Regions from separate parts of the Homo sapiens genome. Here all the other regions are reported to be linked to region 1. Evidence: microRNA targets listed by miRTarBase, many of them from high-throughput screens and not tested one by one. Region 1 holds a microRNA gene; each other region holds the end of a gene's coding sequence.

Region 1 (8,213 bases):
ATGATTGTGAGGTTTCCCTGGCCATGTGGAACTGTGAGTCCATTGAGCCTCTTTCCTTGATAAATTACCCAGTCTCATGTATGTCATTATTAGCAGTGCGAGAATGGACTAATACACCCCATCTCTACAAAAAGTTAGCCAGGTGTGGTGGTGCACGCCTGTAGTCCCAGCTACTCAGGAGGCTGAGATGAGCCTGGCAATTGCTTGAGTCTGGGAATTTGAGGCTGCAGTGAGCCATGATGACACAACTGCATTCCAGCCTGGGTAACAGAGCAAAAAAATAAAAAATAAAAAGGTAGGAACTATTTTATTATTAACAGAGTCTGTCTTATTCTGCTGTTGTTGACATTTTACAGATCCTTTATTGCCAACTATCTGCATAACTAGATTTTAAGTTCCTTGTATGCAGAAGTCATGTATTATTTTTTAAAATTTTCCTTATATTGATCTGTTTTTTTTTAATAGTAAAGATTGTTGAATCTGAACATTAGATGACAATGTATTTGTCCAGCATTTCTCCATTTGAAATTATCTCACATTATTATGTGAGACTTGTTCATGTGCTTTGCTGGAGTTGAGACTTAGACAGTCTGTGTTTTTTTATTTAGCAAAGATAATCCAAGTTAAAATAGTGTTGTGTGTTCCTATAGGAAAACTAGGCCCAGTGTTATAACAGAGTGTAAGTAATAATAGCCACTAGGAGGTAAGTACCTGCTCTGTGCCAGGAGCTATGCTTCAGATTTGAGATGTTTTTATTTAATTGTCACACTGATTTTATTACATAGGGAACATTTAATAGGAGAACAAAGCTTAGGTAGGTTCAGTAATGTGTCCAAGTTCACACAGCAAATAAGTGGCAGAGTGAACTTGAACTTTGATTCTCTCTGAATCAGAACCTATTCCTTTATATGCTCTGTTGTATCCCTAGCCTGAGATCCACTAAGCAACTTTTTGAAGATGAGTACTACTGATTTCTTATATCCAACATGTATACATTGTCCAATGAAATTCTGCTAAAACATGGGAAATATAGGTCAGCACAATTACCAGTCATGCAAAATTGTATTTAATATCATAATTTGTAATGGTGAGGGGTGCTTCTTTGGGACATAGAATTTACAATGGCAATTTATTGACATATTTATTATTAACATTATTATATTTACATTCTCTAGGTACCCACATTTCACTCCTAGACACTTTTGCATAATCTCAATAACATCATAACATCTATAAATATTAACACTAATCCTGTAACATCACCTAACTTTTACCCGTATTCAGATTTCCCCACTTGTCACAAGAGTGTCTTTTGTTAAAAAACCCGGATCTAATCAAGTTTCACTCATTGTATTCGTTGCTATGTTTTTTTGTTTTAATTTTGATGGGCATCTTTCAGAAGTTTTAAAATAGTCTTAGAACCTCTTTTTAAGAACCAGATTTGAATAATTTATTTTATTGACCTCCTTGTCACTCTAACATTTCTTTAGTAAATACAGGCTTTGAGGGTAGGTATTGGTTTCTCTGTTTAAAAGTAGAAACTTTGCATAAATCAGCCCTTATATGTGTAAGTTTTCTGCCTTTTGGTTTCTTCTCATGCTGTTTCTGCACAAGTGCCTAAGCTTTTTTGAAGCTTTACTTGAGGGGTGACCAGAAGGTTTTACTTAAGGACACAGACCCTTAAATTCTGCAATGACAAATCTCAACTTCCATCTCAGGGTTGTAAGTGAAACCAGGATGCAGCCGTTTCTCTTTTCTCAGATAAGTTCAGGTTTGAATATAAAGTGTGACTATAAGATACAGAGACTGTCCCTAGAAAAGGAGGGGAAAACATTTTAGCAGTTCCTCTTTGGAGATAACTTTCAGTGCCTGCCCATCAGCCTCCAAGGAAAATGCTTTTTGGTTACTTTATAGGTTCTAGTGAACTTTGCTTACTTTACAATGTTCCCCAAAATGTCTGTTGAGATTAGTGCCTGAATTTCCACTGGGCTGACCAGTCTGTAGTTTCTTGAACATTTTCTTCCTATGCCAGTTAAAAATTAGAAGAAAATTGAAGTTTAACATACACATTCAGAAAAAAATAAAAAATCAGATTAATAAGAAACTAATGAGGCTGTGCCATTGTAAACTACTTGCAATAGAGTTTCCCAACGATGAACTGAGTATCTAGAAAATAACAAGGATTCTCAAGGAATTTTAGTGAAATGATCAGTACTGTATTGAAATACCTTGAATCAGACTTTGGAGAATAGATTTAAAAACACTCACAGCCTTAACCGATCTAGTAAGAACCTTATTCCCTAAAGCATACTGTGGATCTCAGCTGTATCCTATCTAAGGTGAGAACAGTCAAAGACAAATGTGGCCTTTGAGAAAGGTGGGATGTGAGTGTCTTGAAACAACAGGCTAAAGAAGTGCTCTCAAATAGAAGTATAATATGGAACATGTGAAATTAATTTTAATAATATATTTTAGTTAACCTAATATATCCATAATATTTTCATTTCGACATGTATTAGGTTGGTGCAAAAGTTATTGTGGTTTTTGCTATTTTTTTTTAATGGCAAAAACCGGCAATTACTTTTGCACTAACCTAGTAGTTACTACAAAAAAATATTAACAAGAGATTTTATGTTCCACTTTTTAATACCAGGTCTTCAGATTCTGGTGTGTATTTGATACTCAGAACACATCTCCATTTGAACTAACCATATTTCAGGTTCTCACTAGCCACTTGTAGCTGGTAGCTACTTTGATGGATTGCATAGGTCTAAAGGGAAACATCTTGAGAAAGAAGAAATAGGTTAAGTGCAAGAACAAGAATTAAAAAGGAAACTATTTTAGCATCATATTAGAAGGAAAGTACAGAAAGAAGTTGATTTAGAGAACCAACATCTTAATTCTTGATGAACTTATCGAGGAGGCAGATTGACAGCTGAGAGCAAGGTCCGGGAACCTTGCTCTGGCCTTGGGGACCGAGGGTTTGTAACCGTTGGGAGACAGGTGGCTGCAGTTTCAGTATGAAGTAGATGAGGGCAGGGAAACTGGTGGTGGTGTGGCTGAAATCAGTAAATCTCTGTCTTAAGGAAATAAGAGAAGTCACTAACTGGGACCGGCTAAGGGTGGAATCGATCAGGAAAAAAGAGGAATGGCCCCAACCAAGGCATCTGATGTTCTGGCCAACAGTGCAGGCTCTGGGGCCGACTGCCTGTGTCTGGACACCAGCTCTGCCCCTTGCTAGCTGAGTGAATGCAGTCAGCTGACCCTCTCAGTCCATTTCTTCATCTGTAGCCTGGTGCTTCGGAATCTTTGACCTTCTCTATCAACCAAGTGTCCAGCGGAGCAAACCACCTTACTTTGATAGGCGTGTTCTCAAGAAATAACTCCTTTCTCACTCTCACCCCAGATGTTCTTAGGCTCGCTCCCCTGCTTTTCTGGACTCTGCTCAGATGCCAACTTATGACTGCCCCCCATGCCATCCAACTCCTTTCCTTACCAGTACTCCTCAGCCCCCACACTCTGCTTTATTTTTCTCTATAGCACTTAACATCATCCAACATCATCCAAATAAAAGATATTTACTTTTTCATTTATTATGTTCTTCCCTCCACTGAAAAATAGACTCCAAGAGGGCTGGGATTTTGTCTGTTTTGTTCATTGCTATATCCTGCCTGCTTATTTCAGTGTCTGGCACATAGGCAGGACTCCATGAACATTTGATGAACAAATAAATGAATAATAAGAACTACCTCAGAGTTGAGTTGAGGATTAAATGAGTTAATACACAAACAGCTCTTGGAACAAGTGCTTGTCACATAGTAAGCCTGCAGTGAATCTTCGTGCTGCTGCTACTGTTAAATATTATTACTGAGGCTGAGCTGGCCTAGGGCTCCTTGGATTGGACTTGCTAAGAGCTAGGCAAGAGTCACAACTGTATGAAACTTGATTGAGTTAAAACAAACAGTGCTACTCCTCTTTATTATCTCCATGCCTGGTAAGCACATTTTCTACCCCCAAAATTGGGACTGACTAATATGAGAATATTTATGGCCTTAATAGGACAGGTTATTTGATACAATTACTAGCCTAGACATTTTAGGAGATTGGCCGCTCCTCAATACTATAAATGCATATATGGGTGTGTAGATAGAGATGTTGCTTCCCAGATTGCCACACATCCTGATACTGCAAGTAGGCATCAACTGAAAATGTGCCGTGATGTGAAGACCAAACGCAGAGAAGTGAGAGGGACAAGGCTGTGCTCAGTGACCCATATCCAGATGAGAAATCCATCTGCTCACTTGGGAGCAAAAATGCCCCAAGACCCTGCTATCTCTGGGCTTGCACGAGGCTTTAAATGAATCACCATTATGATGTCTTATATTCAGAGGGAAATACCAATATTCATATATTCAGGTACTGAAACTTTTAAGGGAATTTTTCTTTTTTCTTTCTTTTTTTTTTTTTTTTGGTCAAATGAACTTTTACTTTACCTGCTAAAATCTGCAGGCAGTGTGAGCCTTAAAATATTTTAGAGAGAGAGAGAGAAGTATCTTAAAATTACATTGTTTATTTCTAAGAACAAACTCAAGAAAACCCTTTCCTTCAAATCCCGGAAGAGTGATTAGCTTGTCTCTAAGGTATGGCATTGGCTGGGCATGGTGGCTCATGCTTGTAATCTCAGCACTTCAGAAGGCCCAGGGAGGAGGATCACTTGAGCCCACGAGTTTGAGATCAGCCTGAGCAACATAGTGAGACCTTGTTTCTACAAAAAATATAAAAATTAGCTGGGCGTGGTGGCATGCAACTGTAGTTCTAGCTACTTGGGAGGCTGAGGCAGAAGGATCACTTGAGCCCAGGAGGTTGAAGCTACAGTGAGCCACGATTGCACCACTGCACACCAACCTGGGTGACAGAATGAGACCCTGTCTCCAAAAAGAAAAAGGAAGGAAGGAAGGAAGGGGAGGGAAGGAGGGAGAGAGAGAGGGAAAGAAAGAGAAAAATAAAAAGAAAGAAAAGAAAGAAATGACATCAGTGAACCTCCTCAAACCATAGCGAGGCTGTTAAGTTTGATTGGGGCTGACATCCATGAGTGGGTACAAGTTTATCTGGTGTGGTGCCCTGCATCCTATAACACTTAGTTGGTAAAATCTACTTAAACTTGAGAGGGAACATCTCAAAAGGGACAGCTGTGGAGTTGGGAAGGTGGAGCCCGCAGGTCCTCCCATCTTGCTTTGGTGATGAGGCAGAAAGTGGGGCTGAAAAACTGAGTCTGTTTTGGTTGTATATGAGGGCTCCTGAGCCATTTTATTTTTAAGCTCCAGTTAAACTTCTTTCTCCATCTCTCCTTACGAAGTCCTCCTTCTTCAGCCAGGTTCCACAGCAATTTGGGATTTCACAAAGCCCAGGGTTTGGGGTGACTGTCAAATTTTGCTATTCTGTCAGGAAGCCTTATCTTTTGAACTACATTTAAGTTGTATTTTAATCATTTTAGTTAATTCATTCAACAGATATTTATTGAAAGTCCATATGCCAGACATATGGGGATACAGCCAAAAACAGGAACACCTTTGTCCTTGTCCTGATAGGGCTAGCCTGGCTGGGGTTACCCCTAAGCTCAGATTTGAATTAGTTGCCAACTTTCAAGAACAGGAATTTTCACACAAAATGTGAATATCTGGCTTTTTTTGAAAAATTGGGAACCTGGCAATGGTGGGCCTCTGTTTCCACATGGCAGGAGCTGAGGCACAGCTCCTGTTTCCACATGGCAGGCCCCTCCCTGTAGGCTCACTGGTGCGCAAGTCCTCACCAGTCCCTTCTGACTCACACTTGGCCCGCTGGTATCTCCTCTGTGGGTGGAATTGCTGGTCTTCGTCTAATGCGTCATTTGCCACAGTTCTGTTTCTTTGTGACTCCTTTGTTTGCTCGTTTTCTTTTTATTGTTTCTGGTCTGGCTTTTTCTTCCTTGACTGGAGTCTTGCTCTCTGAGGCCCTCTTCAGCTCTAGCATTCGATGATTTGGAAACCACAGAGCTTAGTGCCTCACCTGTAGGTTTGGAGGTGTGCTTAACTCAGTTTGACTTTCTCATTTGCAACATCTGCTGTTCCAATGCTGTCTATAGATTGTATCCTGAGAAACCCTGCATCATGTCACTATCTTTAAGAGCCTTATGCCATGTAGCAAGCTAAATAAGAAACAATGGTTAAGAGCACTGATTCTGCAGTCAGATTGTCCAGGTTCAAATCTGGCTTCATTACTTAACATTGTTGTGCCTCAGTTTCCTCACCTGCAAAATAATAAGGTTAGAAATAAAACCTTCTTAATATGTTTTTAGGATTCTGATTTTTTTTTTTTTTTTTTTTTTTTTTCTGAGATGGAGTCTTGCTCTGTCACCCAGGCTGGAGTGCAGTGGCACAGTCTTGGCCACTGCAACCTCCACCTCCCGGGTTCAAGCGATTCTCCTGCCTCAGCCTCCCATGTAACTGGGATTACAGGCGAGTGCCACCACGCCCAGCTAATTTTGTATTTTTAGTAGAGACGGGGTTTCACCATGTTGGCCAGGCTGGTCTGGAACTCCTGACCTCAAGTGATCCACCTGCCTTGGCCTCCCAAAGTGCTGGGATTACAGGCATGAGCCACTGCTCCCAGTGGTGAGTACCTATTTATAGAGCCCTTGCAACAGTGCCTGGCACAGAGCCAGGGCCATACAAGTGTTAGATTAAGTAAAAAAAAAAAGTACCAGTCAATCTGAATCTCAGGCCCTGAGTAATAATTTGCAGAGGAATTTGTGCTGGGGGTTGAGAGTTCCTTTTCATTAACCCATAGTTAACGGTGACCAGATTTTCTAAATAAGAAATCAGGATACTTCATCTATAAAACTTGGGTTCCAGTTACAACTTCAGGCCATACAAAAAGAACTATTAAAATTGAGGTGTTGATGTTTTGTAGAAACACTGCAACAGAATATTTGAGATCAGACCTGTTTTTAGATATGTGATCACTCTATACATGTAGTGCTGATTAGGTATTAGGTACCCTCATATCTTTATTTAAAAAAAATTCAAAATTCTTCAAAACAAAAAAACCTTCAAAAATTATCTGGCTAGCATAGAAAATCTTTTTAGGCGATCACTGATAAAATTTTTTCCCTCCCTCCATCTCTCTTTGCTTTTAAACAGCAAAAACTCACCCCATGCCCAGTTCTCACCCAGTTAATTCAGACAGTGTGAATACCTTGATGTTGACCTAACTCATTAAAAGAAAAAGAGAGAAAACCTTTGAAAGCCTATTCCATGTCAACCAGTGTAAAAAGACTCTCAATTTTATTCAAACCTGAAAACAATCTTTTATGGTGGGCATTATGATTTCTACTTCACAGCTGAGGAGATCTAGTGTGGGGAGGCCTTTGGGAGTTCACCCTGGGCCTTGCTGGCTTCAAAATCTGGGCACTCTCTGTTCTGCACTCTGGCATGGTTATTAGCGTCCCTACAGTCCCTTTTCTGACCACTCAGTGGTATCAGCAAAGCAACAAACTCACTGTTGACACCATTCCTTTGCTCCTATTTGTGTATTCATTCATTCATTCATTCATTCGTTCATCCATGGTTTGTGACCTTTGAGAAAAAACTCACTCCCCTTTCTTCTATTGTTCTTTTGTTCATTAGAAATTATCTTAGCAACTTACTTTAGTGTTGGCCTTGGAAGTGCAACAGAAAAGACTTTACTGTAGGAAGGAAATAATAGATATACCCATGCACACAAAGTAGAGGTAGATATTAGTTTTAGAGACAGTTCTTAACAACTCCTCCTCTTGGTTGAATAATTCTATTTAAAAAAAATTTACATAGTTTTAATATTATAATAGTAATAGGATATTTGTCTTCAAAAGTAACATATTTTTCAATGTGACCTGTATTAAGTAATAAGTAATAAATTGAAATCTCACCATCACCACAATCTCTAAAGTAACCGTGGTTACTTTAAAAACAACCACTGTTAATCATTTAGGGTGTCTCTTTCCAGTCTAAAAAAAGAGCAAGTGAGAATGCATGTACACATGTATTCATGTCTTTTTATAGTTAAAATATATATATATTTTTTGGTAGAGACAGGGTCTCACTACATTGCCCAGGCTGGTATCAAACTCCTGGGCTCAAGTGATCCTTCCACTTTGGCCTACCAAAGTGCTAGAATTGTAGGCATGAGCCACCACA
Region 2 (8,213 bases), not on the chromosome of region 1:
TCTAAAGCTTGAATCTTTTGAGCCAAGTTGTGGTTATGATGCTGAGAAGCCCCTCTGGACTCTAAGGGTTTAAAATATATCTCTCTGGCTCTGCAGCAGACCTACTGAATAGGAATCTCAGCAGGGAAGGCCCAGGCACTTGGATTTTGATAGAGATTCATGTCTGGTTCTAATGTGTACGCTATGGTTTTTTTTTTCTTTTTCTTTTTCTTTTTTTTTTTGCAGAATAACGCCTTTGCCTAATTCATAGGTCAAATTTCAGGCCTATCATAGCATTATTTGGCAGCTTCTGAGTAACTGGGCACTGCTCATCTTTGCCTTAAATGAGAAATAAGCCAGGGTGAGCCAGGTGGCCAAGTTGCTGCTCGGCCCCACTGCTGTCTTGGACCTTTCTTTTCTTTTACTCCTTTACATGTCAGTTCACTCACTTGATATTTATTGTATGCCCAGCATGTGCCAGGCACTGTGAGTACCAATATAGTAAGTGCCTCTGGGGAGGGGATACACCTCTCTCCCTCCATGAAGCCACTTGCACTGTGAGTACCAATATGGTAAGTGCCTCTGGGGAGGGGATACGCCTCTCTCCCTCCATGAAGCCACTTGCACTGTGAGTACCAATATGGTAAGTGCCTCTGGGGAGGGGATACGCCTCTCTCCCTCCATGAAGCCACTTGCACTGTGAGTACCAATATAGTAAGTGCCTCTGGGGAGGGGATACGCCTCTCTCCCTCCATGAAGCCACTTGCCCTTTCTGGTACTTAGCATGTTGCCCGCCCTCAGCCAGGCCTGTGTATAATAAGGTCAGTTGGCCTCAGTTACTAAGCAGTAGCTGTGCATATTGTTCTGGTCATATGTCCCTGTAGAATGTGGTTTGTAGAGCACGGGGTTGTGAATAAGAACTGACTGTGAGGCCTAGCCATACAATTTGTAGTTTGCATGCCCCCCACCCCAGGAAGGTTACCCTCCAGACCTCAGAGGCCTCACCTCTTCAGCAGATACTACAGTCCCTGAGAAGACGATCAATGCGAGACCATGCTGTAAGCTGAAAGGGTTGTATAGATGTTAAAAATACATACATAATTTTTGTTTTTTAATAATAGAATTTTGATCTCTGGTGGTAGAATTACTCAGGTTCAGAATCCTTGGCTCCAGAAGTCTCCCTTGGCAATCTCTAAAAATATACCCCAAACAAACAACCCATAGAGAATCAGAAGGGAAACAGGAAGCCTCCTCCTCTGGAAGGAGAAAGAATCCGCAGCTTAATCGCTATTGCAGAGCGGGAAACAGGGCAGGGAGCAGGAGACTTGAGTTTAGCTTTGGGAAGATGAATGAATGAATAAATGAACCATTATCAGCTGCCAACCGTGTGCCAGGCACTGTTAGAAGCAGAATAGTAATTTGTTTAGTCCTCACCAAAACCCTATGAAGTAAGGTGGTATTTTTACCATTTGACAAGTAAGGAAATAGGACTAATTAGTTGGAGGAGTTAGAATTCAAATTCAGACCATCTGGCCTGAAAGCCTTGCTCTTAATCACTATGTATATTGCCTGTAAATAGTATAGTTTATAATGATTAATTGTCCTTTTCCTTTCTGTTGCAGGAAGGAGTTTTTTGATGGCTGCAAAGCAATAAGTGCAGACAGCATTGACGGAATCTGTGCACGGTTCCCTAGCCTCTTAACAGAAGCCAAACAAGAGGATAAATTCAAGGATCTCTACCGGTTTACATTTCAGTTTGGCCTGGACTCTGAAGAAGGGCAGCGGTCACTGCATCGGGAAATAGCCATTGCCCTGTGGAAACTAGTCTTTACCCAGAACAATCCTCCGGTATTGGACCAATGGCTAAACTTCCTAACAGAGAACCCCTCGGGGATCAAGGGCATCTCCCGGGACACTTGGAACATGTTCCTTAACTTCACTCAGGTGATTGGCCCTGACCTCAGCAACTACAGTGAAGATGAGGCCTGGCCAAGTCTCTTTGACACCTTTGTGGAGTGGGAAATGGAGCGAAGGAAAAGAGAAGGGGAAGGGAGAGGTGCACTCAGCTCAGGGCCTGAGGGCTTGTGTCCCGAGGAGCAGACTTAGTGGCTCTGTCCCAGGAGCAGCAGCAAGGATCTGCCAGCTGCCCTGCAGCCAACTGAGGAATTGGACCATTTTGGAAATTACTGAAGATCCGGATATTTTCTACTTTACACCTTTCTCTGCCTTGTATCTGAAAGGGCTCTAAAATGCTGTATCATGTTTTAGGCACTTTCTTCATTTTTTTGGTTATTTTGGTTATTTCCTTTTTGGGGGGATCTCCCAGAATATTTGAACCTGGTTACATGTTGTGTATCTTTTTTTGAAGCCTTCAGATAGAATAAGCCTGCCATTTCTTGCACAAATTTAGGTTTTTTTTTTGTTTTTTTTTGTTTTTTTTTTTTTTTTTTTGGTAGGGGAGGGCATAGAGCAGGGCGGGGGGATGGGACTGTTAGGTTGAATTAACATTACAAAATGATACAGTGCCAGATCTCAGTTTCGCATATTGTTTTTCAGGGCAGGTCTGTACTGTGTGTAGTGCTGTTTACATAGATGAATTTAGGTTGTAATAATTATTTTTAAAGATTTACACAGATTTGAATAGCAGTGTTAACTGTTAACCACATTGCATTAATTCCCAGGCGATTTAGAGCTCTTGGAGAGCCAAGGCCAGCCAAGAGCATTTGTAGTCTGGTGACAACCCCCTTTTAAGCTAATTTATCCAGAACCCTGATTTCCCTCACTTCTTGCTCATTCCTTCTTTGACCTATTGCATTTCATGTTGAGTTTTTCCATCAACATGCTGCACCTGTCAGTCAAGTGAGCATTTTTTAAGAACACATTGTACTGAGAACCACTTAAGCATTGAATGCGGAGAAAGCAGTGCTACCTCAGTTTTGCTGGAAGTAGACTTCTTTGATAGTTTTCTTTCTTTGATGAAGTTTCTGTATTTTCATGTTGTAAGTGGAAATACTTTTTTTTGTTTGTTTGTTTCATTTGCCTTGGAGCCAAAGTTTCTGTTCCTGGTGGTCGGGAAACTGCCTGCCGGCCAACTGACTTGAAGGAAAACTGTGGTATGGAGCTCTGCTTGAATTTTTTTTTTTTTAATATTTTTATTTTTTTCTTTGAATATCATCAGCTTACTTGTCTGGCAAGGGCAGAAGCCTGGGGTTGGCCTGAACTCTGCCAAACAAATATCAAAGTGTATTTAATAGTTAAATTTGTGCCCTTTCCCTTCTTGCTGCACCCATGTTGTCACTTAACCCCCAGGAGTTATTTATTATCTTTTTGTTAAAGTCAGGCTCATTTGGGGTAATGTGATGACTGTTTAGGTTTACATGACCCTCCTCTCCTTTCCCTACCCCCAAATATGTATATATACATATATAAAATATGTATATATTTTACCTATATAAAATATATATATATACACATATATGTATCTATATTCCTTTGTTTCTTTGCCTGCTTATACTGGCCATAAAAGAGGGAGCTGCCTTCAATGTATAAAGTATAAGAAGAGTGCCAGGGAATGCCATAATGGAGGCTTTTGGATCTGAATTTGGACCATTTCACTAAAGAGAACATGAGTTTGCTCAGCCCTTTCCTCACAAGAGGGAGGGCCCCGGTTCCCCAGACTTCTCCACGCGCTGGCTCCATAAAGGCCAGCTTTGGCCAGGCTGCCACAGGGGCCTGAGGAGCTCACTCTGGGCCTACCTGGTTTCAGTTAGAGGGTCCTCCTGTTATTTTTCCATTTAAAAAGTATGTCCTCAGAAAACTGTACTGGAAGGATGGGTGGCAGGAACTTGTATAGTTCAGCTTCCAACACTTTGGAACAGATTAAAAAGGGAATCTTTTAAATAAAAACGTATAAAAATATTTATACTCTTGAGGTAATGAGACTTTGTCTGTTAAACATTTGGAGGTTTCTCCCTTAACCTAATACCCCGCTGCGTCCCAGGTATGTTTCTCAGCCTGGGCAGGAATTGCATGTTTTGAGTTCCATTGTGAGCAGCCTTACAGCTCTGGGCTCCCATCTTAAGGATTATTAAAGAGTTTTGGCAGTTGGTATTTTTCTAAAACTGATATTGACCATAGGGAACATACTTGGAATTTGTTTTTTTTTTTAAATCCTAAACCTGACAGTTCCTCCTTCAGAGGGGCAAATGGGAAACTTTAAGATCACCCACGGTATAGTACTGCTAGAAAGCTGAAGGGGGTCTTGGGCCAGATGCCTGGCTTCTGTTCTAGCTAAATAAGACTCTTGAATAAGTCTCCAGGGGTCCCAGCAGGTTCTGTGGGATCAGTTGTAGCTGGGTACCCAGACTGAGGTTTTAAAAAGACTGCTTTTTCATTAAGCCAGTTTGCAACTCATTTTCCCCGGTTCTGGATTGGGTAGTGGTTGACTGAGGGAAAAGCCAGGCTGCTCTTGGCCAGATAAGGCCCTTTCCATCCCAGATCAGAGTGTATCAGAGAAAGCTGCACAAAAGAGGCAGGCAGCCCAGGACCCTGAGTACTCTGGAGAAACTAGGTTCCTTCCCCACCCTTTAAGAAGACATTCCGTGCATTAGATGTACTAGAGTGGATGTATTTTGTTGTTTTTTAAATTAACTATTTAGCCTCCTCATCCCCCACCAAAAAAGCCATTTAGTTATTTTTTGGTTATATTGATCCATTTGCAAATGAGAAGCCAGAAAAGGGAGCAGTCAGGGAGGGACTTACAAGTTCCTTTCAAGTTTGAGTACTTGATGCTCAGCAAAGATTTCAAGCTTCTGCAGTAGCTCTGGGCCAATGCTTGACTCTTTCATGACCACAAGAAATGCAGTTTTTCTGCAAAGGGATCCAAGGTGAGGTGTGTGTAGGGTTTGAAGTTATACTTCTGGGAAGTGAAAAGTCTTGTTCCTTTCAACCTAGAAATAGGTTTGCCACTTAATGAGTGAGCAGTAAGTCTGTGTAAGAGGCTGAATGCATGCCCCTCAGATAAGCCAGTACACTCCTTGCTTAGCAACAGAACATCAGGGTGATGTGGAGAGGGGCAGGATGTGGACGCCACTTTGGAAATCGGCAACATCTGAGGGCAACAACAAACAAGTGTGTTGGGAAATAAGAAATAACTCAGTTTTGACAACTGGCTTTGTCAGCTTTTGTGATGTTTCTTTAGCAGTTTATTGGAAAGATGGTATGAGATGACGTGCTGCTTCATTGAATTGCTCTTTCCCCCATCTTTGCCAAATCTCAATGTATCGTTCTTAACCCCACCTCCTGTAAGGGGCTTTGCTATGCTTCAGCTGGTTGTCTCAGCAGCTGAAGTGCTGCCCACCTGTGTGAGTTGGGTCCAGGAAACCATGTCTGCCCTTCTGATAAGGGAAGATGAATCTAGAGCTGGGTGAAGATCTAAATTTTAACCAAACCCCTGGGCCCAGGAAAATAACAATTGAAAATGTACAAGGCAGTGTTTTCAATATTAAACTTCCCCAAGGAAAGCACAAACTAGTCTTTTTGGAAAGGGAGAAAGGATTAAGCCACACAGTATTAGTCTTTGAAGCAGTACTGGTCTCTAGGGGCTGGTGCCAAAATGGAGTCCCATAGTAGTTACACTCGATGGCCTCATGTACTATATACTGTGCCAAATTGTATTAAACAGTGGTGGGGAGTTACTGGGATAAGAACTTGTCTAAAAGTTTACAAACCAAAACAGATCTGTTAGGTTGGTGCAAAAGTAAGTTTTTGCCATACTTAATGTATTGCCATTAAGTATGGCAAAAACCACAATTACTTTTACACCAACCTATGTATTTAAGAATGTTTGGTTTGCCAGATTCCAAATGAGGTCTTCAGTGCAGCAAAGCCCAAAAGGTGTAGACTCAGTTATGCAATTATAAGGTTAAGGCGTAGAAGAAAGCTGCTGCTAGGTTTTTGTTGCATTTTACTTGACTGCTCTGCTGTTTTTCTTGTCTCTCATGTTTGGTTAGCTATGACTTGAGCATCTTGGTAACTGACAAAGGTCTTCCTTGGGGGACTTGAACATCTTGGTAAATGACAGGTCTTCTTGGAGGACTCCAGCAGTATCTTGTTTAAACGACTGAAAGGACTATTAAGGTTGTTGAATTGTGTTAATTGGGACTCATTGAGGAAATGCGACATTGATCCTCCTCTTATTCCACAGTGTGTTTTCTGATCATATAAAGAAGGTTCCGAACCATCCATCCCCCTCAGAGTTTATTCCCCTGGTAAGCTGTAATTGCATATCCAGTTTAAACTGGACTGGGACTGCATGTTGGTGAGGATCGGCAGGGGTTTTCCCCCTTTTCGAAAGATGAAATAGATTCTTGAGCACTGGTTGCAGAAGCCAAAATAGTTCAAATAGCTTTGCATAACCATTGGGTTCTGCTTCTGATTCAGGTGCTGGGCATCATGTCCTCCCTATTCTTCTCTTCTTGGAAACCCAGCCTATCTCATAAATACCTACTTCCGCCACCCATCCAACCTCCCTGCTCCTTTCAACACAAATCTTGGATATTGCCAAAGGAAGCCATTCAGCAGCTGCTGGGGTTTTTCATCCCCCTGACATGCATACATTTGCTCTGGGAGAAGTGTCTTCCCTCTGACCCTGGTCCCCAGCTCCGTCTGTGCTTAATTGCTCTTACCTGTTGCACTAATGAATATGACTAGGTTTTAAAGGGGGAATGTGAAGCAATAGGCACATGGGGCTTGGATGAATTGGTCCCACAGATATACCCTGCCTTAAGCCGCTGAGGTGATGAGTCCACTGCTCATGTGACCCTCCACCTTTGTGGATCCCTCTTGGTTTGTGACCAGTGTGTCTGTTTGTTGAGGTTGTACAAACTTGACAAAAGTTAATACTTTTGTTTGTATTTTCTGCACTGTTGCACTCTCCAAATGGCCCCTTGAGTATTTTTATTGACTTGTTACACACATTTTTGTCTTTGATGTCTACATTTTTTCCTTTAATGTTTTTTATTTGGAAGGTTACCTGCTGTTGGATTTAATAAATTTGTTTACTTGAATATTGATATTTCTACAAAAAAAAAAAAACAGTGACTTTATTCTGGGGCAAAATTTACCCACTGGGAGCTTCTACCAACATGATATTGAGTAACAATTTTTATTCTTTGAAAAACAATCCAGATAAGTACAGGATCCTCAGACTCCAAACATGGGTGTTGACCTCCCACATACCAAGCTTAGTAGGGTGGCTTTTGGGGGTCTCAGTGCTTAGAGGCAAAGAGCAAATAAGTCTTCACAGGGCCACTGCCTAAATAGTCTTACCTTTGCAACTGATGTGAATTCTCATGAGGAATAAAAAGTGAAGTTGAGCAGTATGTTAAATGCATGACCCCTAGATTTAACAGTATGGCAGTGCATTAAGGCAAAGGAAACAAGCTGTATCTGGCTTTAACTGTCAAATGCCACTGCTATGTGACCTTCGGCAAGTTAGTGAACCTCTAAGTTTCCTTTTACTCATCTGCAAAATTAAAAGACTCTTGGTTCCATCAGAGTGCTAGGATTTAAAAGTCTTGATAAAGTCCCAATGACACATAAGTGCTCAAACATTACAAGCTCTTTTAAGGTTCTCCAAAGGAATGCTAGGTGAGTAATGCAGGGAAACCAGAGAATAAGAGAGGGGGTTGGCATGGTCATACATGACCTTTCACAAGTCACAGCCCCTCTTAGGGGCTTAATTTCCCTCTGTGCCAAATTGGGGATGGGGGAAGAAGCTCAGACTAACGTGATCCCTGGGATTCCCATCTGCCTCTTAACACTCTAGATGTATGATGATTAGACCACTTACGACCCTTAGCTTCCTTCCATTGTATTTTCTGTCTAGTTATTGTTTACATTCAGGAAAGCTCTTGACTGGCCATCTTACACATTTCTTTCATGGAGACCCTGATGGCCTCCCCAAAGATTCCCAGCCTCATGTTGGTATCTTGTAAAAATAAGTAAGTATGGTGGTGGGAGTAGGTGTACTTTTTCTTTTCTGTTGCAAAGGCTCTGGAAGTCATGTCTACATTCTCTGATTAGGGAGAGGTTTCTGAGATTTCCTCAATGAACTGCAACTCTTTTTCTCTTCCTCATTACTAAGGACAGGACCAGGTGGGGGCAGGAAGGAAATCTTAAGGGATGATGTTTTCCTCACTTAAAAAGTATGCCTCTAAAACATTCCCCAGTTG
Region 3 (8,213 bases), not on the chromosome of region 1:
GGAGCTTTCAAAAAATATATAAATATGAATGGGATTAGAAAATAAAAGGGTTTCTAGTTTCTTCTTTACTAGAACACTTAAGATAGCTTCAAATATTTTTTCTTAACAATTGATAATTTTGCTAAGATAAAAAATTTTAAAGCTTATGGTCCATATTTTAAGCTAGGCTTCTTTACACAAGCTTGACTTTTTATTGTAGGAGTAAGTAAAGCCAATGTAAAGAATTTTGAAAGTATGAAGAGAAAAATGTCAATTACAATTTTTGGCCAATGATTGCACATTTCTTTCTAGACTTTTCTCTATGAAATATATACACAACACACACACACACACATTATGACATAAAGTGCCTACTAAATTTTGATTCCTACTTTCTTCCCCCATAAAATTCATAGTATGAAGTCCTCCTCACAATATAAAAAGCTGTATAAACATTTTTTGTGCCTCTATGATCAAGTGGATAGTGTCTAATATTTACCTGATATCTTACTTTAGTGCACTTGTTTCCAATTGATGGATTGCTATAAACAACTTCACAATGAAGGTCTTCCTGAAGAAATCTCAACCCGCGTCTCTTGAGTATTTTCTAAGGTCAGATTCCTAGATGTGGAATTAGTGGGCAAACCATAGGAACTTTTTTAAGCCTCTGGTGCATCTCACTTTCCTACATGAGGTGAACTGCTGATGTGCTGAACAGGGTAAAAACAGATTTGGGTGGCTATTTTTGACCATGGCTACCAAAAAGCCATCTTTTCTTACATTTGTGGAAACGTTTAAAAGAATTCTAAGGCCGGGAGCGGTGGCTCACGCCTGTAATCCCAGCACTTTGGGAGGCCAAGGCGGGTGGATCACCTGAGGTCCGGAGTTCGAGAACAGCCTAGCTAACATGGTGAAATCCCGTCTCTACTAAAAATATAACATTAGCTGGGTGTGGTGGCAGGTGCCTGTAATCCCAGCTACTCAGGAGGCTGAGGCAGGAGAATCACTTGAACCGGGAGATGGAGGTTGTAGTGAGCTGAGATCGTACCACTGTACTCCAGTCTCGGCCACAGAGTGAGACACTGTCTCAAAAAAAAAAAAAAGAAAACAGAAAAAAAATTCTCGGAGTTCTTGCCCCAATGCTCTCAAGACATCCAAAACATTCAAACCAAGAGAGGACTGGAGTGAGGATGGCGTTAGTGCTAAGGCTGAGCAGAGAGGTATTATACAGGGCAGGCAGAGCATCTAGCAGAATAAGGGACTGTGCCCTGGCCACTCATGGAGGTCCTCAGATGGGGTGACTCACAGCGGGGTTGGGAGCTTTGAGGACAGCACATTGCTGGGTTGTTAGAGCTGGATGTTTTATATGTGAGCACCTTCCCACACAACACCATTCCTTTCCCGCCAGGCCTGAAGCCCCATCCTTCCAGGCCCCCATTAAAGGCATTAGGACTTTTAAGTCTTCAACATCCTCCTTTTCCCAGATTCCAGACAAGGGCCTTCTGAGCGATAACAGGGCCCAGAATATGGCCATGGGGTTGACAAAGTGGCAGGGCTAGGCAGCGCGTTGGAGCTATAGGCTTCTATACATAAACATTTTGAAAGTTGGGGCATCAAATTATTTGGACAACATAGTTGTTTTTCATTTCTATTTTGAGGAAAAATGTGGAATTTTGCCTTTATCACAGAACAAATCTTGCAAAGCTATGTTCTTCTGATAGCTATAATCTTTTTTCTTGGGAGTCAGGGGTGGGGAAGGCATACATACAGCCCTCCTAATAAACCCTCATCCTGTGCCACTCTCTTATACCTTTTGTATTCTTAATATGATTATGGTCATGAAGAAAAATCAAAGTGAATGATTTACTTCTACATGTTTCATGATAAAATACAAACCCTTTACAAAGAAATACTGATAGATATAAGCCACATAAACAAACATTCTGGAGTTCTCAATAATTTATTTCAGAACATAAAGAGGTCCTGAAACCAGAAAGTTTGAGAACTACTGCCTTAATCAACATGAGAAAAATCATACAGGTGAGAAATCCTGTGAACATAAAGTATCTAAAATCTCTAAAGACTGCTCCTCCTTTGTTCAACATGTGAGAGTTCATGTAAGTTAAAAAACCAAAAACCTACGAATATAAAGAAGGAGGGGAAATCTTAAGCAAAAAGCGTCGTTTAGTAACCAGTAAAGAATTAATACTGGAGAAACTCCACAAATGTGGTCAATGTGGAGAATTTTTCCCTTGTAGCTCGCCTGGATTAAACACGAAAGAACTCACACTGGGAAGAAACCTACAAAGGCAGACGGTGTGGGAAAACCTGTAGCTATAGCTCTTCGCTCTCTCAACATGAGAGGGTACATTCCAGAGAGAAAAACTGTAAGTGCACTAACATGGAAAAACTTTCAGCATCAAAACATTCATATGGGAGACAAACCTTGTTTCTATAAAAGTAATCCACGCAGAAAAGTCACTTTTTTATAGAACAAAAAACCCACACAGAACAACCTTTCTTCAGAAACAAATGAGAATGAATCTAAGAAAAAAATCACCAAATGCAGGAAGTTGCTTTTGAATGAATCCCACCAAAGGGAACACAATTCAAAATCACTAAATAAAGACACTAATGGGGAAGGGTTTGCTGAAAAGCATTTTGGAAAATCCAAACCAGAAATAGGCATGTAACATTAGAGGATACGTATGCACTGTTATAATAATTTCGTTAACACTTCAAATTCACTCAAAACCAGTTACTGAACACCTCCTCTGGGGGCCATGCATGCACCATGTTAAGGCATCTGGTTTACAGAGGCGATTCTGAAATGGACAGGCCCTTGCAGACTATATGCTTGCATGTGGACCAACTAATTAGGAGGAAATCAGAGGCAGATTTTATCAGATTGAAGATAATGTTATTACATAAATCAGACTATAGATCTGCATATAACCGGTTTCACGTTATGCCATAAAAACCATTCCATGACACTATAGACCAGCCTCATCCTAAAATCATTTGCATATTTGGTGTGGTAGAAATATTGTTACCAATGTTTAAAAGAATAACCTGAGCAAAGTTAATGAGGAGAAATTAGGCACAACTGTCTAAGTTAATGCAAAACACACAAAGATGCCAAATGTTTATGTAAAGAAAGCTTTAACTGGTTTTGTTACAGGATTACACACAGAGACAAAAGTATGCTATGATAAAGTTACATATACCCACAAATATTGACTGGCAGTCAAAGATGGGGTGGGTGAGGGAGGTTAGTTTCTGAAACACAGCATGATACAACTCTTCCTCCCACAATTATTGGATTAAATGTTGGCACAAAGTTTAGATATTTCTGCCACATTGTAGATTCTACCCCATTAATTTTGATGCCAAATTTCAATTTACCACCTCTATTCAAGATTTTATGCTGTATGAATATTTTGGAATTTAAAATGCTGACAGTATATCTTCTGGGCAGTCAGAACCAAAAAGGAGGAATGGAAAGGAGGAATTCGGGAAGGGTTAGGGGAAAGTTAGAATATAAAAAGGCTAGGAAATAGATTATTAACAGAATTTCTAGAATAAAAAGTTTTCCTTTGGTTAGGTTGTTAGGTCAGGATGGAAAATTCCCCAAACTCCTTCTTCAAGTATTTCAGGAATGTCAATGAAAGTTTCACTTTTACAGGAACAGCTTTTCTTAAAAACCAAAACCAAAAAAAAAAAAAAAAAAAGCCAATATATTAAGAGCTTTAATATCAGAAACTTCAACTTTTATAGATCTTTATTCTTCAAACTTTATGTCAAATTACAAATAAATAGTCCATACCATGTAGCTCTTTATGATACACGTCTTCAGGCAGAAAACAGCAACAACCAAGAACACATCGGAAATGAACTCACAGTAAATAACCAATTTTAAGTAGAGAAAGGATATATGACATTTCAGTGTGGTCCAATATGTACACTGTTTAAAAGCGGATCCCCCTGTAAAACATCACAGATGTACATAATTCTTATGGGAAAAAAAGAGCCCACACATCAGAGATTTTTAAAAGTTTTTTCAAAGTTGTATCACAGGGACTGGTTGTTTAAAAATGGCAAAATCTTGAGTATTTTAGCAGCAAACAAGTAAGTTATTCCAGGTTAATCTATTTTTAAACGTTGCTGAAAAAGTTGCAAGCTTTAGAGAACATTATAAATATCAAATCCACTACTGAAAAGCAAAGTAGTATTTAGAAAGTAGATACTACTTTCAGGTTTGTTCTGTGTCAGCAAAAACTTTTTCATGAAGTTTCTGCTAAGAAGGATGTCAGTGGAGGAGCAGTGGGGAAATAAATGGAGGTGGCCACCAGTCTTGGCTCTAAGTTGCTAAACTTACTGGAACATGTAATGCTTACGAATTCTTCATAGAGCTTAGTTTATTCCCAGTAAACAATAGTTCTTAAGAACCATTCTTTTAGATCTGTATCTTATTGTCAGATATTTGTATTAGATTTAGCAATTTGAAATTCCTTAAAATTTTGCTCCCCAAATATCTCCTGGTTAAACCAGTATTTCTTATATGAGTCATAATTGAGTGGTTTTTTCATTGAACAGTTTTTTCCTCTTGAAAGGGTAATTTTAGAGGATATTATTTTTTAAGTCACTAAAGATAGTTTTGCTTACAGACAAATTTGTTTAAAAGGGGACTCTACTTAATTTCACTTTCTACTGTGGCATTTGACACCTGGCATCTGACATTTTAGGACTGAAAGGAATTATAAACTTCATATGAGAAAACAAACGAAACTAAATAGAGTTTAAGCCTGCCTCATTAGATGGTTCCATCAGTGATCAGCTACATAATTCATCTGACACTATTTCAAGTCACAATTATCAGTATCTCTCCTTTGAAGCATTCACACTTTTTTCCTAGATACAATCTCCTTTTTTTAATCATCTGAAAGCAAACAATTATTCTAAAGACAAGGCATCAGAAACAAATTCTCTCCGCCCACTGAGATTTAATTTTTAGATCACAGCATCCTCATATAGAAGTTCCATTCAATATTTTTACTTCTTCTTGGCAGTTATCCCAAACATTAATATTTAATTATGAAAAGAGAAAAGCATTCAAAACATAATACAAATATACAATACAAGAAAAGTTGAAAACAAAAAACACTGTATTGCAATGTCTCCACATACGATGTTTGTGATGCAACCAAACACACACTACACAGTCCTGGCTGCTCCTAACACTCCCCTTACTTTACACAGACCTAGGTTCATCTTTTTTTTTGTTTTTGTTTTTTTTTTTTTTGATTTTTGCCTTTTGATGCCTACAGTAACTGAGAATCAACAAAGTAACTAGTCTGACATGAAAAATGTGGTGCCTATGATTTAAGTCCTGATTTGAGCACATCTTAATTGGTGCACTATTGCTTTTGATAATCCAGATATAACAACAGACAAGCAGTAATAAATGAAGAGACTATGTATCACACAAGCAAGGTTTCTGAATTACAAATAACTTCAACAATGACATCAAAACCTATGAATTAAATCTTAACTCACGCGGTTATAAAGTTAAATTCTCATGTGTCTTAGTGAGAATGCTATCATCAAATACATTCTAAATTCTTTCATTTTTTAGTGTACAAAGGTTATGGGAGAAAGGATAAGGTGCTTTTTAAATAAGCTACCACTGACTCACACACATCCATACACGCATCAGTGCAAACTAGGAAAAACACTAATTTTAAAATGAAATAATGATTATCTAGACTAAAAGGAGACTTTGAGATAGAATAATTTTCCATGACTAATTTGTTTACAAATATAGATAACTCAATGTACATATAGTCAACGAAATATTCAAAGAATAACTTTATATACTCTTGTTCTTTAAATTCTATCCTCTCTTTCAGAATTCTTCCATTTAAGTTTGGGTATTTTCCTAGTTTCAACAGATGAACAGAAGACTTCATTGAACATTTTGACAGTAAGCTACTAGAGACCAATTATCAACTGGTGCTACACATGCTGTGTTATCTCCCTTACTATTAAACTATAACCCTCTCTTGCTATTTTGTTTCATGCATCACCAACCAAACTTCATTTTTTCTAATAAAAAATAAATATATAAAGAAGACACTGACAGGCATATATTCACAAGATCTCAACTTCTTAAAACATAAGTATGGGTATATTTATTTCTCTCAAATGCATACAAGACAATAATTACACAGCAACAAATCTTTTGTTCAACAATGATTTGATTCATAAGCATTTGAAATTTACATAATTTCATATCAATACCCTTGTATTTTTAAATACAGTAAGTAAAAAAGCCCCCAAATAACCAATTCTTATATTTCCTATTTATCCCTCTATACATCCAAACTTTTAAAAAGTTACAAACTGAACATTATACAGAACATATAAATCATGTTTAAAAACTTGAGGTTTTAAAATCACTGCTTCCCCAATATGATTCAGAAAAATTCTCATACTGACAAGTACAGTCATAGGTGGTAAAGTAAGTTGGTGGCGGGGAAAATGAAAGAAGAGACAGACACAAGTTTGCTGTCTTAATGTTTTACTAATCCTGTCAGTTAAAAATGGTGACGTCATGAGAAGTAATAGTTTAATATGAGGAATGGAGTTTGCCTTGCAGCTTGAGACATGCATTTCAAGTATTTTCCTATTTGATCTGAGCTCACTGTAGCAAACTGATGCCAGAAGAGAATAATTATTTTCTTCCATACATTCGCTCAATGTCCGCCTGGTAATGTGTTTTAAGCTCTTTGCGTTTCAGCTTGAAGGCATCTGTCACCAGACCAGTTTCAGGGGTCCACGGTTCAGGACTCAAACGAATTTTTACTGGAATTTCAAACTTTTCCAGACTTGCTAAGATGATTAAAAAAAAAGAAAAGAAGAAAAGGTATTTAAGTTCTTAGCAAATGGTGTAACTTCCCCACTTTTTGCGTATCCATCAAAATGCACAACCAACAAGTGAACCATGAATGTCACTTCTAAAGAATCTATTCCTCAAAATACAAACATAAGTAAAACAATAAACTATTTAACAAGTCCCCATCAAGAGGAAAATGAGTTAAATAAAATATGATATAGGAACAAAATAGAATATATATTCTGTCATTGAAAACGAGTTAGAGCCAGGCATGATGGCTCATGCCTGTAATCCCAGTAACTCTGAAAGCTCAGGCAGGAGGATCGCTTGAGGCCAGGAATTCAAGGCCAGCCTCGGTAACATAGCGAGACCTTGTCTCTAAAATAAGTAACTTAAAAATATTTTTTAATAGAAATAAAAAATATAAGCTGGGTATAGTGGCATACGCTTGTAGTACCAGTTACTCAGGAGGCTGAGGTGGGAGGATGACTTGAGCCCAGGAGATCTGAAGATGCAGTGAGCTATGATCGTGCTACTGCACTCCAGCCTGGGCAACAGAGCGAAACCCCATCTCATTTAAAAAAAAAAAAAATTACATTTAGACAGGTATCTAATAGGGTATCCAATATAGTCACGCATCTCTTAATGACAGGGATATGTTCTGAGAAATGCATCACACACTTGGCAGTTTTGCCATCATGGGAACATCATAGCATATCTTACACGAATGTCGATGGTATAGCCTACTATATATACATCTAGGCTGCATTATCTAGCCTACGGCTCCTAGGCTACACACCCGCACAGCACGTTATTGTACTGAATACCATAGGTAATTGTAACACAATAGTTAAGTATTTGTGTATTTAAGTGTATCTAAACATAGAAAAGGCAGTAAAAATACATTATAATCTTACGTGACCACTGTCATATATGCAGTCTGTGTCTGTCACTGACTGAAACTTCATTATATGCTGCATAAATGCCTATTGTTAGGTTAAAAAAAAAAAAAAAAAAGACAAGTTCCAGCACAGGCTGCATAAACTTATATGCACCTAGATGTGAGGAGAAGGATACATACCAAGCTATAAACTCCACACCTCTAGAGCCTGGTATCCAGGAGAAAGGAAATGGGGAAATTCACCTTTTCCTTTATGCCTATTTGTTTTCCTTGAATTTATTATGCAGAGCACATTTACTTCAGAAATTAAAAAATAATAAAGTTTAAGACAAATTATGTCATTGAACCAGGATATTCCCTACAAGCTATGTGGATACAGAATGCTTGCTCACTATTGTGTTACTAACATATTGCCTAATACTAAGGAGATTCATGATA
Region 4 (8,213 bases), not on the chromosome of region 1:
GGGCTCACCCTCGCCCACCCACCTCATTCACAGCCATGCTATGTCACACTGTGGGGATCCCATCCATCCCTGCTTCTCCCTGCCCCGGCCTATCTTGGGTACCATCCTTCTCTTGCCAACCTAGGAACTAAGCAGGTGAACCCAACCTGGCCGTCATTCTCGGGATCCATTTCCTCCTGGGATATTTGGGGATGTGTATGCCCAGGCCCTTCCTTCCTTGGTGGCAATGGAGCCTAGCCATTAGGGCCAGCGGGAGTCTGTGACCCAGGTACTGGCACCCAAAGTGACTTTGCCCTGCTTCCTGCCATCTTGTTAAAGAAAAGGTAGCCAGGATTCCCTAGGAAATAAGCTGTGGAGAAACCACTCAGCAACTGCAGACAGGGGTCTGTGGCCAGTTCAGGGTCTGAGGGCCAGTGAAGGTGGGTGCAGGCAGGCTGAAAGGACACCAGCACAGCCCTCGGGGTGGGGGCTTGTCACTGGTGTCTGGTCTCCCTGCTTTTCCCATGTGGCCTGGGCTCCATGATACGTTCTCCAGGCCTGGGCCTGGAAAACAGGTCTTTCCTGTTCTCTGGACCTGCTAGAAAGCTTCAGTCAGTTTGGTCCCTGGGAGAGAAAACGCTCTTCCCATGACGGCTCTGTGGAGGCCAGGAATGGGGTAGGTGGGTTGACTGGGAGTACTCCTTCCTGCCGCCCTGGTCAAGGGACTAGTGTGAGTCGGGAGTGCATTTTTGGAATGGGGGCAGGGGTGTTTTTCATGACCATTTATTTGAGTGGTTTTGATTGGTTATGCATACTCTTTAAATTTGAATCCAAATTTTTTGCAAAATTACTTCCCAATCAGATCTTGACCCTTAGCCTGGGACACCACAAACTGAGGTGAATTCTCTGCTTTGCTCGTCACAAATGCCAAACTGACTGCCCTTTCACGGTGTCCATCTTGCTGTCTTTTGCTTCTGTTTGATTTGGTCTGCATATCTTTTAATGTGTCTGTTTTTGTTTTGTTTGTTTTATTTTTATTTTTCAGTTAACGCACGCACAGACTTACATGTCAAGAGTGGACTTTAGACTTTCATGTGTTAAGTTGCTTGAGTTACACCTTGTGACCCTTCTCCCATAACATGGTGTGAGGACGGACTGGGAGCCGGTACAGACTCCAGTGTTTACAGCCTTGCTTTCCTCCCACCGACCCTGGCCCCAGGCTGCCCCGGGCCTGGCGGGCCACCCCTCTCTATGCAAACACGTAAAAGCCATGAATGCTGGAATCCAAAACTGACGAGGTTTATTTTTTTCAGAGCCAGTGGCTGGTCTTCCATTTACAGTGTCACTATTCCCTGACGGAGCTGTTATGTGCCGCTCTAGCGAAGGCCCCAGCCGGGATGCTAGGCCTAATTGTTCAGCGTGGAGATGGCAACTCACGTGGTGCCCTAGGTGCAGCTGCGTGGTCTGGTATACATGCTGCAAAATTCACCCAGTTCCCCTCATTTTAATTTTTCTAACCTACAGCTTAATTTTAATAACTTTAAAACACTTCTAAATATTTATTTTGGCACCAGCGTCAAGACAAATAATATCCTCTCCCATTATTTTCATAAGTAACACAGATTCCCTGATTTTTAAAAACTAAAAATACAGCTAAACCTTTCTTATGTATAAAGTATGCCTATCATATACAGGGAGAGGTGGGTAATAAACTTCCTGTAATGACAGTGTTTGGCATTTCTTTATGGATGGAATTGGAACATGAACAAGACCATGTCCAGCGTTTTTACTGTGAATGTAAATGGAACAGCAGCCCAAAGCTGTTGTCTGTGCCCCAGAGGTGCTACCTGTAGACAGGGACCAACTCCATGTGTGTGTGTTAAGTGTTTGACTCCAATTAAGACTCCCAAGCAAATCCTGCATATTCCAAATGTAAAGAGTACTCAGTGGGAAAAAGGTTGTTACCTCAAAGTCATTGCTTCTTTCCTGGCTGGGTCACAGGGTGAAGAGATGAAGGTGTCTGATGTATATAGACAATTAGGGAAAAATGAGCGGCAAAGGAGCTTTCCCCTTCAGCTGCACTCTAAAGGGGAACATTTTAAGGAAGTACTAGCAGCTTTGACTCTTCTATGCTCCTGTTGGTTTACAAGCCACCAAGAATGTCAGTGTTGAGAATACGGCCTGGTAAAATGGGAGATGTAAAATGACTAAATGAAAGGAAGGGTAGTTTTAATGTTGAAGCACCGTGCTGGGCACTGGAGCTACCCAGAGGAATGCACAACGCTCCCCTCAAGGAGCTCACAGTCTAGCCTACTCCCTGGCTGGAAGCCTCAGGAAGACGTGCTAATTTATTGTGGAATTGGTAGTTTGCTTTTCATGCCCCTGTCTTCCTTCTCATGACCATTTCCCCCTTTCTGTCTGGCTTGCATTATTGATTTCCAGGACCAAGTCCTGGCTTCCTCCTGCCTTCCTGAGATGATGTTCTGCTCAGGGAGAAGTGGAGGGGTGAGCTGTGTGTGTCCACCGAGGCACGGCCAGGAAGAGGCAGCCTTTACCTGTGAGGGGCTCCATGCTCCAGCAGCAGAGCAGGTTCTAGTGACAATTCAACTTTTTATGCTATGACCAGGGGTGGATCTAAATTTTATGGGGCTGAAAGCTTGAATTATTTAGAAAGACTTCTTTAAGAAAAACAATGTTAATATAAAATTAGGTACAGGGTCTTGGAAGGGGCCCTGAAGATTAAGCTTCCTTAGCGTCACAATAAGTCCGTATCTGGTTGCAATTGAAAACTGATGCTTCAGTGAGGGTATCTAAAAAGGTAAACTGGCATATCCAGGGCAAATGTGGGCTGCCAATGGCTCATCTCTAGGGTAATTTTATGTCTGAAAGTGTATGCAGTTGGGTCAGAGCATGACCTTTAAGATAGCCTCTCTCAGCTAACATATTTATGAAGATGAGGCCTGGTGACCCAGCAGGTTCATTGGATACATAAGAAATGAGAATTCCTGGTTCATGGGCCAACCTAGGACTCTGGAGTATGCAGACTTGGCCATTCGTCCATTGTGGCCTGCGGGTCGCACCCCAGGCATACTGAAAGGCCATACTCGTGGCTGGCTGCCTGCGGGCCTAAGCCTTCCCAGGATCTTCAGGACACTTGACAGACTTGTGTTTTCTGGTCTGAGCTGCCTCCACAGGTCCCTCCAGCAAGCCTCACTGCACCTCTCCCCTGCTGTTTGTGTTTGGAATTTTGTCTTCTTTAGCTGAGACCAAATTAAACCTTGGTGCATAAAGTGAGCTTAAAACTTGCCACTGTTTAGTAAGTTAGCCCCCATAGAATGTGACCCTGTCTGCAGAGTCTCATTTACCCCTCTTTTTCTCATTGTCATTTGTTGGCTTTATTAGGGCTGTCTTACAGGATCATGTTGGCATTTACTATCATGTCTTTATCATAAACCATGTTTGTTTGAGGTAGAAGAATCACCATATAATTCGTTGCCCAAATTGGGACTATTGAGAGAGAAAGGGGATGCTATTAATTACACCAGATCAAAAGGCATAAACCAGACCTGTCCCAGGCCGATGTGGAAATATGTTCTTTCTAGTTGTGGGTACCCTGATCTAGGTGGTTTGTAATTGTGCATTACTGACTGCATATGTTTGTGTATGTGTAAATGTGGGCTCCCTGTTAAGTGGGGCTCATGGATACGAGGCCTGAGGAAGTGTGGCTTGCTAGTCTGTTACGTTAACATGCTTTTCTAAAATTGCTTCACGTGTTAATTCATTTACTCCTGCATTCATTGACTGTTTTTGTTCTTTTCCATTCACTTTGTACTTATTTTTTTCATTAAATTTTGCATTTATTTTGAGTTTTTGTGGTGTCTTTTTTGGGCAGTAGCTTTTCTGATTTAACGTTTCCTGAGCCCATTAATCTGCTACAACTGTGGTAAAATACAGCTTGTCTGTTCTTTGAATTTTGTGGAGGTTGATCTACTTCTGTAGGAATTGTTTTAATAGGAAACCCTGCTACAGACATCTGTGAAAGGCTCTTGCATAGGTGGGGGATGGAGGGAAGAGTCACAGGAAAGTTACAGGAAGGTAAAGGGGCAGCCTGTGGTCCATGAATCTTTATTGGTTAACTGGGTGCAGGACATGAGAAAAGGGGCACCTGCCCTTGAGGAGTGTTCCTCCTTAACACAAAGGCTTGCCACGGGACTACTAATATTCGAGTGCCAGGACTGCTCGGAACCATATTACATGCATTAACTCCTCTAATCCTCATCCTAATCCTATGATTAGGGACCATTCATCCCCATTTTATAGCTGAAGCACAGAGGTTTAAGTAATTACCCAAGGTTACATGGCAAGTAACTGGAGAAGTTGAGATTTGAACGCTGGTAGTCTGTACCCTTAAATCCTGAGCTACACCTGCTCCTTGGCATCTCAATGGAATGATGGAAGAGTAGTGAAAGTGTGGCTAGTGTTAAAGTACACAGCCTGATGGTGTGGGCTGGTGGACCTGAGACTGTTTTTTAGAGGTAGAAAGCCCTAGGGGACAGGCAAAAGTGGCTGAGGAAGAGCAGACTGGTGAAAAGAAGTGATAAAAAGTATGTGGGTTTGTTTTTTAAGGAGCTTTCTCCATTGAGCACTAGGTAGGTTTGGGAAGACCAAAATGAGAAAATGGGGACCCCTGCAGGGAGAGTGGTATGAACACATCCCTAATGCAGGCATAGCTCAGCTCTACTTGTGCAGGCAGCAGGGAGGCAAAGTAAAGTATTCACCAAGCTTTGAAGGACAGAGACTCTCCAGGAAGCCAGGGGGAGGAGGGCCTCCTAGGTGGTGGAAACATCATCAAATGACTTGGCTCATTCATTTCAGGGAAGTACTGTTTGGACAAGTTTAAGACAGGTCTATGATGCTCCCCCTGCCCTGTTCCTCCCTGAGCCCACCTACCTTTCTTTCTGCCATAGCATCTGCCTCTGAGCTTTTTCCATCTCCATTTTCTTCAGCCTCATTCCTTCACCAATCCCTGCCTTTCAATAGCTGGGGTCAAAAGGAAAATAGATTGTATCCATATTTCTCCCTGAGAAATGTTTCCCAATCTCTGAGTTGAGGTGGGATAGGAGTTCCTAATGTCAGAAAAGAATATTAGAGGGAAGTAGGATGGGACCTGGGGCCCCACGGCAAGCTTGAAAAGCACATAAGATTTTTAAAAATCCACGAGTGGGACTTCGGCAATACAAAAGTGAGCTTCCCTATAGAAGAGTTCTATCATTTATAGAAAGCCAGAGCAGAAGGTTGTCTCTTACCCCAGTCCTAGGACTCACATGTCTACCCTCTGCTTTCTCCAAGAGGTTTGAGTTGGATCAGCTCTCAGAATCCAGCTCACATCCATAGCCACCTGGTTAAGCAGCAGATGTCTTCCAGCAGTTCCCCTAAAGCCTGGGATGCCTAAACTGGTATGGGCCCTCAGGATGTCCTTCTGCCTCATGCACTGTGGTCCCACTTACACTGGAAGGAAGGAGGCAGAGGGCACTCAACGGCCACCACTGGAAGCTGTGAGCAGCATGGCCTCAGCATCTCCATCTGTAAAATGGGTTCTGGACTAGAGGAGAGTTCTTGATATGACCTAGGAGATAGTGTTCCAAATGTATCTGACTCTCGCAAGGCTAAATGCATGGTAGCTCAAAATAAGACTCATACAGGATCGGAAGCAATTAAAGTGTAATTTTAACGAAAGCACCAACAAGCAAAAGTGTGTCAAGAAAAAATACAGATGTATACTAACTCTATAATATAGACAATTATAGTATATCTGGCCCTTGACCACTTTGCACCTAGTAAATCTTTCCCCTCCCACCCCATGGCTTAGCACATTTACACAAACACACCAAAAAAAAAAAAAAAAAAAAAAAACCATAGTTCACAGTGGAAGACTTCACAAACCACCTCTGAATGTGTGGCTCAGTCATTCATGCCCCCAACACAACTTACACAGCCCCAGCTGGCATCTTTGTCAGCTGCACTCCCCTGCTTAGAGAATGGCTCTGTGGTAGCACAGCATGAGAGAGGCAGCCGGCTCCTCCTCCTGGCAGCACTGTGGTTGGAGCAGGCTTGGCCTCAGAACCTGCTCATCCCAACAGAAAGCATTCAGAGCTGTGCCTCCCATCACAGGTGTTAGCCTATAATACCCATTCATTAGCACAAAATCCCTCTAGTTAAACTAATAACTGAAACCACTTTGCTTAAGAGTAACAAAGGAAAGATATGCCTAAAGCTTGCTCAAGTTACATTAAACAAAGCATACTTTATAATCCAGTCCTTGTAAAGGGAAGACATAAGTCATAGCCATGGTTGGGTAAATGCATCTGCAGAGACTGTCCCATGTGAGGAGTGGCAGGCAGGGTAGTTGGGACTGGAAGCACCACATATGTGTTTGGGATAAGCCTGGGAAGTTGGAAGGACCTGGCCAGCTCTGGCAGGTAGAGCAGCAAGAACTGGTCAGAGCTAGCCCCAGCCCTTCAGCCCTGAGCCAGGCCTGCCTCTTGGTTTCATATTCCAGCGCTCCCAGGGGCCAATGCCAACCCTTGCTGGAGAAGGAAGGTAAAACAAGCTGCCATTTGAACATTCATTCATACTCCCTGGCTTCAGGCCCAGAGGAGAAAAAGGGAAGACAGGGTCATAGTCTATCAGACCACCCTGACCTCTACTGACCTCAGCCTGCCTTTCCCCTCTCCCCTTTATTTTTTTTCCAAGGGCTCAGTTGGGAACTTTTTCTCAGTTGCTCTTCCAGAGCCACCTTCCCTTTTTACAGGATTCATAACAAGCCAAAGAACTCATGGTAGTCCAAGCAAGGAGGTTTCACACTATGCTCTGAAAGCCCCGGGGTGGAGGCAGAGGGGCTAGTTGGCAGGTGACACAAAGTTGTCTGTGCAGGAGGATGACTGAAGACTTCTCAGTTGCTGCATTACAAGTTCCTTGCAGCAGCTGTACTGCATATCACCAACCTGTATTAGAATAGAGTGGCCATCTTCAAGCAGAACCATCATACATTCTAAGAAATTGGCAATTGAGTGCCAAAATGTTAGCATGAAGCAAGTTCAGGAAGGTCCAACCACCCAACTAAGGACCACTAATCCTACCATCTCAGGGACATCCATTTCCAACCTCAGTAAAGTTGTCATTAGTCTAACTATGCATTCCATCCTAACCTATCTGTTCTGAGGGATTCTGACACACCCCTCTCCTCCTTGTGCCCCCACAATGCTTGCCTCATGGTACCCCTGTACCTGGTACCACACACTCATACAAAGGAGAGGTGAAGGAGTTTAGAATTTATGCTCCTCAGTATTAAGCTCAGGGTTGCTTCCTCCTAAGCCAGACATACCCCTGACTCCCCACAGTCCTCTTGGCTACAAGGGCTCCCATTGAGATAAAGATTCTCTCACTCTCAGAGACCACCCCCATTGGTCCAGTGAAGGGAACACATGTCCCATCTCAAGTGCATAGAGCGTGACCAAGTGTGGAAAGCCTAGCCTTTGGGCAGACTCTTTCCAGGGTTATGGCCAGAACATTTTCCAGAGGCTACAAGGGCAAAGGGTACCCCTTTGGGGTCAGAGTGTGTCAGCTAAAGGGGCAAAACACAGAGCCTGGTCTGGGGCAAAGTTGATGTCTACCTGTGCTTTCTTTAGCAGATCAGATATAGGAGCACACCAGCCGGGCATGAGCCTCTCCAGCTCTAAGGTGATGATGACCAAGGCCAGTGTGGAGCCCTTGAACTGCAGCAGCTGGTGGCCCGCCATACAGTGCTGCAGCTGCCTGGTCAGGGATGCGACGTGGAGGGAAGGATTCCTCTGAGGCAGCAGCTCCAACACATGGGGCCAGCTCAGGACCACCAGGGCATGGAACTGGAGACCATGGTTTTTAATGTTAGAACAGAAAACGCCATACTTTTCCTATATCAATGATCAAAAGTGCAAACAATTTAAATTTCCATCAGGGAACATCAAATGTTGCCCAACCCTTTTCATTCCTATCCATGGCTCCGTAAGGGGCTTGAGGCTTAATGCCCATCCTGTGGCCAAGCTGAGCTTCCACTCCGGGACCAAAAAAAAAAAAAAGTCTGCTTTGTGACATCATCGTTATGAGCGGAAAGTACCTAGATGACAATGTTTCCATTCTGAAAAATAGAAACATACTATTCAAGACCAAGGTAGCAGAAAAGTTACTTGTATCTG

Evidence for each region. Region 1 holds the annotated microRNA hsa-miR-548ac (CAAAAACCGGCAAUUACUUUUG, at 2,565-2,586, shown strand). A microRNA usually pairs through its seed, bases 2 to 8, with sites in the 3' UTR of a target mRNA and lowers its output. Matches are read on the target gene's strand: a 7mer-m8 pairs with bases 2 to 8, a 7mer-A1 pairs with bases 2 to 7 and ends in A, and an 8mer does both.
Region 2: miRTarBase lists DCUN1D3 as a target of hsa-miR-548ac. Seed matches in the 3' UTR shown: 7mer-m8 at 2,389-2,395, 7mer-m8 at 5,930-5,936 and 7mer-m8 at 6,569-6,575.
Region 3: miRTarBase lists ACSL3 as a target of hsa-miR-548ac. Seed matches in the 3' UTR shown: 7mer-A1 at 6,414-6,420.
Region 4: miRTarBase lists CCNI2 as a target of hsa-miR-548ac. Seed matches in the 3' UTR shown: 7mer-m8 at 5,888-5,894.

What each region holds. Positions count from the first base shown.
Region 1 is chr1:116,554,411-116,562,623 of GRCh38, reverse strand. It overlaps MIR548AC (microRNA 548ac), which reads left to right and starts at 2,513; the gene lies at 2,513-2,600. All of the region lies in intron 1 of CD58 (CD58 molecule), which reads left to right. LOC105378925 (a long non-coding RNA gene) reads right to left here. Exons shown (of 3, transcript XR_947739.2): 3 at 1,437-8,213. RefSeq lists enhancers at 1-106, 2,706-2,945, 3,997-4,046, 5,723-6,017, 5,791-6,040.
Region 2 is chr16:20,853,758-20,861,970 of GRCh38, reverse strand. DCUN1D3 (defective in cullin neddylation 1 domain containing 3) reads left to right here. Exons shown (of 3, transcript NM_173475.4): 3 at 1,602-7,046. The coding sequence ends at 2,085. Among named protein-coding and RNA genes, the nearest start is that of DCUN1D3, 42 kb to the left of the region's middle.
Region 3 is chr2:222,940,154-222,948,366 of GRCh38, reverse strand. It overlaps ACSL3 (acyl-CoA synthetase long chain family member 3), which reads right to left. Exons shown (of 17, transcript NM_004457.5): 17 at 3,728-6,870. The coding sequence ends at 6,713. It also overlaps the pseudogene LOC100419511. Among named protein-coding and RNA genes, the nearest start is that of ACSL3-AS1, 25 kb to the right of the region's middle. RefSeq lists a silencer at 4,196-4,345.
Region 4 is chr5:132,751,636-132,759,848 of GRCh38, reverse strand. CCNI2 (cyclin I family member 2) reads right to left here. Exons shown (of 6, transcript NM_001039780.4): 5 at 7,653-7,883; 6 at 5,446-6,983. The coding sequence ends at 6,879. It overlaps SEPTIN8 (septin 8), which reads left to right. Exons shown (of 10, transcript NM_001098811.2): 10 at 7,668-8,213. The coding sequence ends at 7,833. Among named protein-coding and RNA genes, the nearest start is that of CCNI2, 8.3 kb to the right of the region's middle. RefSeq lists an enhancer at 7,999-8,208.